Homo sapiens: one gene and its partners. The protein of the gene in region 1 purifies or fractionates together with the protein of each later gene. This does not show direct contact. Each region holds a gene or a part of one and is shown in the gene's direction. Other genes may lie near its edges.

Region 1 (3,656 bases):
CATTCTAGGCACAGGGTTGCAGATACAGAGGAAGAGATAATGAAGGTCCTGAGAGCAAAAGGAGGAGGCATTGCTTAGAGCAGTGGTCCCCAAATTTTTTGGCACCAGGGATCAGTTTTGTGGAAGACACTTTTTTCCACGGATGGGTTGGGGGGATGGTTTCAGGATGATTCAGGTACATTACATTTATTGTGCACTTTATTTCTATTATTATTACATTGTAATATATAATGAAATAATTATACAACTCACCATAATATAAAATCCATGGGAGCCCTGAGCTTGTTATCCTGCAACTATACAGTCCCACCTGGGGGTGATGGGAGACAGTGACAGATCATCAGGCCTTAGATTCTCATAAGGAACATGCAGCCTAGATCCCTCGCATGTGCAGTTCACAACAGGGTTCAAGCTCCTGTGAGGATCTAATGCTGCTGTTGATCTGACAGGAGGCAGCGCTCGGTGGTAATGCGAGTGATGGGGTGTGGCTGTAAATACAGAGGAAGCTTCACTCGCAGACCACTCACCTGCTCTGCAGCCGGGTTCCCAACAGGCCCAGTTCCTAACAGGCCGGTACTGGTCTGTGGCCTGGGGGTTGGGGACCCCTGGCTTAGAGGACATCATCAGTAGTACTTAGGAATAAGGGCTGAGATAGAACGTGGAGTTTAGCAAAAGATCTAAGTAGAAGCAAGTTTAGGTTGAGGAAATTGAGAGGTGAAATGTTGGTAGTTATTGTTATAAAGTGGCAGTGAAAGGAATACAGGATGGCAACTAGAGAGACAGGAGGATTAATGAAGATTTTTCTTTTCAGAGGAGGGGAGATATATATTTGTATGAAAGTCAAATGAGTAAAGATGTTGAAGACAATGGGTAGGCCCTAGGAAAAAGAAAGCAAACATGGGGTAGAGACTATGGATTATTGGGATATCCAAGGAAAGAAAAGAGGGATGCATGTCTTTTCCTTAAGAAAAGAAAGACGGAATGAAGAGTGGATACAGGAACATTTTGAAAAGCAGAAAGGAGAAGATCAAATGTTGGATGCCTTCAGTTAGTAAAGTAGGAACTCAGAACCAATGAGCTTCAAGGGATCTTAGAAACAACTTGGTTTAACTCAATTCATATATATTTGTATTTGTATATATTTATATATAATTTGGTATATATACAATTAAATTTTAAACAATAAATTTGTATTCAGTTGAATCTTCACTGAGTTTAATAATTCTGTATAGTTTTATAATAGTTACCTTTTGGTCATTTCCTATCACACTTCCCAAAAATGACAGTTCAGATGTGTTCCAGTCACGTTCAGTGTTGTGTGACTGTGTGTTAGGAATATCCCCATTTAATAGCTGAGAATAAGAAAAGCAATGGGAGTGATTTAGGCCTGGGGAGTGCCAGAGGTCCAGGATGTAGGGAATTAGAGAGTCAGTGAAGCCAAGATTGAAGTGGATGACCACAGATTCAGGTCGGCAGGGAAGTGGGCTGGTGAAGATCTAATGGGTTGAGTGGGAATGAGTATTGAAACAGAAAGAGCTAAGACATGACTTATGTAGAGACCAAGGGAGAACTTCCCCTCTGCCCTCTGAAGACTTGCCAGAAAAAACTGACAACAGGTAGATTAATCGGAGAAATGGCATACAAGTTTATTAACGTGTGGGGTGGGAGGAGGGAGACAGAGTGATTACCTGAACCCCAAGAGGCTCAGAAGCTTATATACCATCTTGAGGCAAAGGTGGTCCTGTCATGTAGATGAAACCTCATAGGGAGGAGCCCTCAGAGAGAATAGATGGTGAATATTTCTTTCAGACCTTTAAAAGTGTCAGACTCTCAGTTAGTCTTTCCTAGATCCAGACAAGAGAGAACCTTCAGAGAAGGCCAGGTTGCATCAATGCAGATTTTCTCTACAGACACAAATCTACCTCACAAAAGACAGCTTTGCAGGGCTGTTTGTTTGCAGGCCCTCTGAACAGCCATCTCAAAATATGTCAAAGAAGTATAATTTGGGGTGAAATATTCTGATTTCCTTCACTTGCTAGACCCTGAAGTGGGAGAAAAGAGGGTGCACATTGAGGCTGTGGCCAGTCAAGGGGAGCACACGTGGAATAGTGTGCTTTCAGGTAAGATCCCTGTGTGTTTGTGCATGGGGCTGCTACTTAGGGATTTTGGTTTGTGAAGTTGAGGAGAAAACAATCCAGAGATCAGTTAACGTCTCTCCTCCATTTGAGATGTGTGCAGCTTCTTTCATAAATACATTATTATTTTCAAATAAACTTTTAATTTTGGAACAACTTTGATTTATGTAACCACCCCACAGGTTCTTCTTTCTTGCTGCCCAGATAGAACTGGTTTATCAACACGGGAGAATTGCAATAGAGAAAAAGAGTTTAATGCACACAGAGCCGGCTAAACAGGCGGCCAGGGTTTTATTATTACTCACATTAACCTCCCTAAAAATTTGGAGGCTAGACTTTTTAAAAGATAGTTTGGTGTGCAGGGGGTTAGAGAATGGGTGCTGCTGATTGGTTGGGGAGGCAATTGCAGGGGTATGGAAAATGGTCCTTGTATGCTGAGTCCATTTCTGGATGGGGGGGCCACAGGAGTTGCTGGTTTGGGAGGAGTTATCCAGTCATCAGAAATATAAAAATCTGAAAGTGGTCTATCTTTTAAAAGGCCAATCTTAGCTTCTTTAATAGTGATATTATGTGTAGAAGTAATTGGAGAAGTTGCAAATCTTGTGATCTCCAGACCAGTGGCTGGTAATTGTTTACATGTAATCACAACAAAATTCAGTCCCCTCTCATAATCCTAAACTTGTGACCTTTTATTAGTTTTATAAAGGCAGTTTAGTTTAGGGAAGAGCTGTTATCATTTAACCTGTAAACTAAATTCTTCCAAAGTTAGCTTGGTTCTCACTTGGGAATGACCATGGGCAGCTTGAAGGTTAAAGGCAAGATAGAGTTGGTTAGGTCAGATTTTTTTTCACTGTTATGATTTTCTCACTGTTACAGTTTTTGTAAAGGTGGTTGGTTTTATTTACAGAAGCATTACAAAGATTTCTATGTACTTTTCACCGACTTTCCCGTAAGGTTTGTATCTTGCATAACCGTGGTACATCGGTCAAAACTTAAGAAATTAACATAGCTATAATATCATTTTAGACTGTAGATACTATTCAGAAATTCACTGGTTGTTCCACTATCCATTTACTGCCCTGGGATACAATCCGAGATTCAACACTGCATTTAGTCTAGTTTATTTTGTTATTGTAAAAGCCTTATTGTGTTTTTGTAAATTACTTCTTCATTTTGGTACACTTCACTACAGGTTGTGCTGATGTCACCTGTAAGTGTAATGAACATTTTCTATAGTTTTTCATCTAGATCTAGGCCATTAATAAAATACTAATGTTTAGATCTAGATTTCTGGACTACCATTTGGGCTGATACTCCCTAATTGTTGATAAATTATCAGTCAGTATTACCACCTAAATAATTTTCCATGATTCAGCTTTTATCATGCACAGCATATTCATTTCATTTAATAACATTTTTTTAAAATGCTGGCTTCCAAAATATCGGCAACCCAGCCAGGTGGTAAGACAGAGCTGGGTTTTTAGCTTACTGCAGTGAGGAACACTTCCACAGAGCCTTGGT
Region 2 (3,656 bases), on another chromosome or scaffold:
GTAGAGACGGGATTTCACCATGTTGGCCAGGCTGGTCTCGAACCCCTGACCTCAGGTGATCTACCCACCTTGGCCTCCCAAAATGCTGGGATTACAGGCATGAGCCACCGTGCCTGGCCCCTATTCTTAACACTGTCTCCAAGAGGTTGATCTTATAACTCACCTCAGTAACCCATTATGGAGTCTTGCTGTTTCCAGTCTTGAGTTTTATACTTGATTGTTAGTACATGTTCATTCTTGTCCACTGTGGCTGTGAGAAGTAAAAAGTGGTCATGAAAAGTTTCATGTGATCTCCTGTAATCACACAGCATTATAGGTATGATTATCACACATTTGACTTCCCTGGGGTAAAGGCCAGTTTGATTCCCATCACTACAAGGGTCTCCAGGGAACAGCCATTGGCCTACTCATCCCAAACATTATTGATAGAACATTTCAATATCATAAAATAATCCACGTCACATTGTCCAAGAGTAGCGTACTGATTAGTCACAATTAAAATCGTGAAATGAAATCACACTGGACTAACAGCAAGGTTGTTTTTTGAAGAGATTAGCAACCTTTTGAAACACCTGTAACTAGAGATGCCAAATGAAATAAACAAGGCAGTCTGAAATCTTTCAGGATGCTTTAGTAACATATCTAGTTCTGACTGTCTTTGGGCTTAGCCAGACTTTTAGTAAACTGCAGAAATCCAGGTTGGGAAACAGGCAGCTCAGAGTTATTCTAAATAGCTACAGTTTGCCTGTACAGCTGACTTGGGAGGAGGGGAGAAGAAAGGGATTGCTAGAAAAGGGATTGATGTGAGTTTTGTATTTAATTTGGCTATGACTTGAGGAAATATACATCTCAGTCCAGGTGCAAATCATGTAACCTGGTATGATTACATGTGTTTAGGAATAATCAGAATAAAGCCTAGAAAAGAACAGGTTGGGAAGTTAGTTTTGGGTGGTAGAAGAATGGTGAGGCTGATTTTGTTAGTAGATTGCACATGGACAGATGAAGGTAAAGTACAGTGCCAGCTCCAGCTGGGCCTGGTGGAATCCAGTATGAGTGCTGTTTCAGATGGGACACCCCAACTGGGAGGGAGGTGGATCTAGAGAGGATGTCTGGCCCTGGCATCCCTTGAGTCTCTTGCATAGCTCAATTGTGTTGATGTTTAAGGAATAAGTAGGGAGATTTGTTTGTTTTTTAAATCTAGAACATAATTTCTTTAAGATCTTTCATTTCCACAAACCCAAGTTGGATTTACTGTATATGAGCTAAGGAAATTGGAGGTTGTCATCTTAAGGAGGCCCAGATACAGTTTTAGAAAGACCCTAGGGAGGAGGGATATCACAGGTCCTCCTCACAGACACCCATAGCCAGCTTGTCTGGTGTGCAGCAGCCACAGTTTGGCATCAACATCCTGAAATGAGGGTATTTAAGTGCCTGCATGTGCTACTGTGTCCTTTCATTATGCCCAGTCACCAGAGTTGGAATTACCCAAGGAATCGTGTGTGTTGTGGAGGCTGAGACATAAACACCATGGCTCTCCCCATTTCTTCAACTTCCTTGTAGTTCGGAGGAGGGAAAGCAGAGCCCTGGGCTCATCCATCCTCACTGCAGCCCCACCAGGAGATCCCATCAAGGCGGTCTTAGATTTCTAGGCTGAGGCAAGAAGGGGTTGGGCGATGAGCCCAGAGCCACACAGCCCAGCCCTGTTGTGGCCAGAGAGGGAAAGGGACTGACTTTGTCCTGCAAGTATGGAGACTGCTTTCTTCTTTCTGTTGTTTTCAGTGCAAGCTATCAGCTACCAAATGGCTGCCGTTTTGTTTTGTTTTGTTTTGTCCTTAGAGAAGCGCCCAGGGATCAGCTATCGGGAACAAGAAGGTATCACTGTTTTTTGGGGTATTTTTTAGATTGTCCAGTTTTGGTCATAGGTGGTTTGATTTCCTTTCACTGAATACAAAGCATGGATCTTGTCATCAAACCCAACCAAAGTCAATCTCAGTGTCATTCGCTATCTCTCTTCCCTCCTTACTGATCCCAGGAGAGAAGGTTAGGGTTGCACTAGTGATGGAACACCAGGATGATATAAAGCTTCCAACTTGGCTCAAGAAGAGTTCCAAACAAACAAGTATATCTGCCATTGCAGTGGCTCATGATATGTAAGTCTGGACTCTGTAGCTTCCAGTCCTCACTACCCTGGTCTTCCCCACCGTTCCTCTCTTTCCACAGGCCAAGAGATGCACAGTGATCGGTGGCTCTGGATTCCTGGGGCAGCACATGGTGGAGCAGTTGCTGGCAAGAGGATATGCTGTCAATGTATTTGATATCCAGCAAGGGTTTGATAATCCCCAGGTGCGGTTCTTTCTGGGTGACCTCTGCAGCCGACAGGTAATGGACCATGCAGCCTTGCTGATTTCCCACGAGCCCACGAAGGGAAACCACGATACTTCCCTTGCTCAGAAGCCAGCCAATTTGTTTGAAAAACAATTGTTTCATTGTGAAAATTTTCAAAGTTATAGGAAAGAACACCACATTCTTACTGCTTAGAATGAATAACCATCATCTCTGTCACAGATACTCAGCTGTGTCCTGGTAGCACAAAAGCAGCCATGGTCAGCACTTAAATGAACAAATGGCTGTGGCTGTATGCCAGTGAAACTTGACTTCAAAAGCCGTCCATGGGCTGTATTGTTCCAACTGCAAAACAAGTGTGTGCTGGGCCACAGGGTCTTGATTTTTTAATTGAGATATAATTCATGTACCACAAATTTCACATTTTTAAAGTGTGCAATTCAGTGATTTTCAGTACATCCACAAAGCTGTGCAACTGTCTCCCATGATCTAACTCCAGAATATTTGTATTACCCCAAAATGAAATCTTGTAGCCATCCCCTCTCTTCCCCTCCCAGCCCCTGGCCGCCACTCATCTACTTCCCATCTATGGATTGGCCTCTTCTGGACATTTCATATAAATGGAATCATGTAATATTTGTACCTCTGTGCCTGACTTTTTTCACTTAGCATGATGTTTTCAAGCTTCATCCATGTTGTACAGGTATGAATATCTTGAATTTTATTAGATGGTGCCAAATGGCTCAGCAAAGCTGCTATGTCAATTTTACCTCCATATCCACAATGTGGCACAAGCCCCATTGCTTCACATCTTTGCCAACACTGGGCATAACTAGACTTTTTGGTGTTGCCATTCTGAGAAGTATGAAGTGGTGCTTCACTGATGTTCAGAGTCACATGTCCTCCCTGACCAAGTAACCAGCCACTCTGCCACTGGGTGATCGGCTTTCAGGCTTCCTCCTGTGTGAAATGTTTGTCTGTGTCCTTTGCCCCTTTGTCTTTGGGGTTACCTTTGCTTCCTTGTTGATCTAGTTGGGATGCCAATCCTGTGCCCGTTGTACTTATTATGGATGGCTTCCCTCAGCCTGTCACTGGGCCCTTATTCTTGGCTTTGGTGTCATTCGCTATATGGTTTGTTGATGAAATATTAAGGCCATTGCTTCCGCTGCAAAGTTACGGTTGTTTTCTCTCCCGTGCTGCCCACACCTCCAGGCCTGGAGATGGGGTAGACATCTTTCATGCTCATCATTGCTGCCTCCGAACCGTTCTCCCTCATGCTGCTCTAAGCCTCTCCAGCTTTGAAGAGGATACCC
Region 3 (2,829 bases), on another chromosome or scaffold:
ACATTGAAAATATTGACCATATCAGTGAAGAATGGGCTTGGAAAAGGCAATGGTAATAGTTGTGTTTATGTTTTGTTTAAAATTTGAAAGGGGGCCGGCGCAGTGGCTCACACCTGTAATCCTAGCACTTCGGGAGGCTGAGGCAGGGGAATCACGAGGTCAGGAGTTCAAGACCAGCCTGACCAATATGGTGAAACCCTGTCTCTACTAAAAATACAAAAATTAGCCAGGCATGGTGGCACGCACCTGTAGTCCCAGCTACTCGGGAGGCTGAGGGAGGAGAATCACTTGAACCCGGGAGGTGGAGGTTGCAGTGAGCCAAGATCATGCCACTGCACTCCAGCCTGGGCAATAGAGCGAGACTCCATCTCAACAACAACAACAACAAAAATTTGAAAGGGGTTTGGCTCATCTTACAGTATCCCAGCCTTAGTGGAATTGGAGATACCAGTTGCATTTGAAATCATTTGGGTTTTCTCAGAAATACCAAGCTGTGCTGAGGAGAAAGGCCCTGTTGATTTTTCTGGTAGTTCACAGACTGCGTTGGTCCAGTAAGCAGAGATGAACACCAGATTTCAAAACCCAGCCCTGTCTGTTAAGAGTGAGGTAGGAACTTTTTGTTTTCTTTCTATATGTAAGGTGGGCCAAGTTGGGGTATGTTTTCAAGGGTTTTTTGGTTTGTTTTTGTTTTTGTTTTTGTTTTTGTTTTTATTTTTGTTTTTTTTTTGCTACAGTTGGAGGCTTAAGGGTTATTGAAAAAAGAATGGGCCGGGCGCAGTGGCTCACGCCTGTAATCCTAGCACTTTGGGAGGCCAAGGCAGGTGGATTGCCTGAGTTCCGGAGTTCGAGAACAGCCTGGCCAACATGGTGAAACCCCATCTCTACTAAAAATACAAACGTTAGCTGGGTGTGGTGGTACGTGACTGTAGTCCCAGCTACTAGGGAGGCTGAGGCAGGAGAATTGCTTTAACCCGGGAGGCAGAGGTTGCAGTGAGCCAAGATTGTGCCACTGCACTCCACCCTGGGTGACAGAGCAAGACTCCGTCTCCAAAAAAAAAGAAAGAAAAAAGAATGTTTAACTTACTTATCTCTAGACATTTTGGACCTGGGCCCAGAGTATCAGGGTGTTAAAACTCCACTTATCCACAATTTTAAAAGGGTGAAGTGACTTGCTAGGAATCTAAGAGAAGTGTGCAGAGGCAATGGCTTAGCTGCGTCCAGGTGAAGCATACATCATTTCTTGGAAAAGGGCAGCTGAGTGTGAGCCTCATTTCTCTTCCCCTTCTACTCAGCTCTCCTGGGGGAGGTGCCAGCTGACTAATTCAGACTTGTCACCATCTAGGCACTGAACTCTTTATGTCATAATTTAAGAATATGTTTTTTAAATCACTAAGTAGTTTTGATTTGTTTTCATTTTTAAAAAAAGGTTTGACTTTGGAATTCATGGCAGCAAATGTCGTGAAATCAAGGTGTAGTATACAATTTAGGGGCTACTTTCTTTGCCTTCCTGAGGCTGGAGGTGTGGTCGGAAGCTTACTTGGGTCTCTGGTCAATATCTGTCTCTTTTGTTCTTTTCCCAAGACCTCGGTTCCTCAGTTTGATAATGCATCTTGGTAGGATAGAATATTTTAGCCTCATGGAAAATACGGAGGCCCAGGCTGAGTCTGCATTCTCCAATCTTACCAAACCCCCAAGAAGCCTCCCTCAGGTGCAGTGCAGTGTGCCAGGCAGGTTCGAGTTCCCAAAGGGTTTGGCAGGCATGTTTCTCTGTGAGGGTCTAGAGAAGCAGCAATATATAAAAGAAGCAGCAATATATAAAACCTTTAGCAGAAACAAAAAAATGTGGTTTGATTCCTGGCTCAATGAACTTGGGCAAGGCCTTTTCTGAGCTCTTTCTTGGGCCTCAGCTTGCTCATCTACAGGGTGAGGGAGTAGGTGTCAGTGATTCCCCAGGCCACTTTCAACCCTTCCGCTCAATTCTCATTACTAATAGTTGTTAATATTTCTTTGGATTCAATCTGGAACTAGGTAGAGATTTGGTTTTCTTTTCCACTTTGCTGCTTTTCTGCTCCTTTCTGAGCTTTTAATCCTCTTTTTATCAAATTACCTTTTATTTAAAATAAATGACTTTGAATCTGTACTGTATATTTACCTGAATAGTCTATTTATTGTAATTACATTTTTCTGAAATGGCTTTTATGTACTTAATAGTTTCCTTATTTTGTTACACTCTTGGATTTTATTTTATTAATTACCTTACTAGAATTAGAAGGGATTTAGAGCAGAAGTATTGTACACAAAGTAAAGTTCCAATAAAGCTTATAAGCTACAGAAGGCATTGTGGGAGATGTGGGTTTTAAAAGGTCGAGAAACATAAGAGGTTAATGTTGATAAATTTCATTAGGCCTTTGACAACTAAATATGACATTTGAACCTTGAGATTGCAGCAGCCCTTCCTCAGTCTTCAATAGGAAGGATTAAATTCAGTACTACTTTTGAATTTTAGAAACAAAATTGTATACCAGTTTTTGAATTCCATGTAGAGACTTCAGCTTCCTACTGAAAATGCTAGGATAATAAGTTAGTACTCTCATCTTCTGTCTCTACTCTGACATTAGCTAGTTGACAGTGGACAGAATATAGCCTTCATTATCACGTTGTCTTACTCTTATTGTTATTGTTGTTTTTTGAGGAAGGGCATAATCCTTTGGCCTAAACCGTGCTTCCTAGGCTTCCTAGGGATATGTAGTCCTTTTTTGTACAATGCATGTAGAGTCTCTTCAGACAGGAGGTGTCTGAGTCCCAGTGCTGAGCTTGTGTTGCAAGGCT

What was found.
Region 2: the proteins of CDS1 (region 1) and NSDHL purify together in Homo sapiens (affinity purification with mass spectrometry; one large-scale study listed by BioGRID and IntAct). This does not show direct contact.
Region 3: the proteins of CDS1 (region 1) and ALDH3A2 purify together in Homo sapiens (affinity purification with mass spectrometry; one large-scale study listed by BioGRID and IntAct). This does not show direct contact.

The regions. Positions count from the first base shown.
Region 1 is NC_000004.12:84,586,084-84,589,739, forward strand, and holds part of CDS1 (phosphatidate cytidylyltransferase 1), read left to right. Parts: intron 1-3,656. UniProt on the Homo sapiens protein: Catalyzes the conversion of phosphatidic acid (PA) to CDP-diacylglycerol (CDP-DAG), an essential intermediate in the synthesis of phosphatidylglycerol, cardiolipin and phosphatidylinositol.
Region 2 is NC_000023.11:152,848,045-152,851,700, forward strand, and holds part of NSDHL (sterol-4-alpha-carboxylate 3-dehydrogenase, decarboxylating), read left to right. Parts: intron 1-2,220; coding exon 2,221-2,379; intron 2,380-3,656. UniProt on the Homo sapiens protein: Catalyzes the NAD(P)(+)-dependent oxidative decarboxylation of the C4 methyl groups of 4-alpha-carboxysterols in post-squalene cholesterol biosynthesis. Also plays a role in the regulation of the endocytic trafficking of EGFR.
Region 3 is NC_000017.11:19,672,670-19,675,498, forward strand, and holds part of ALDH3A2 (aldehyde dehydrogenase family 3 member A2), read left to right. Parts: intron 1-481; coding exon of another isoform or gene 482-565; exon of another isoform or gene 566-606; intron 607-2,829.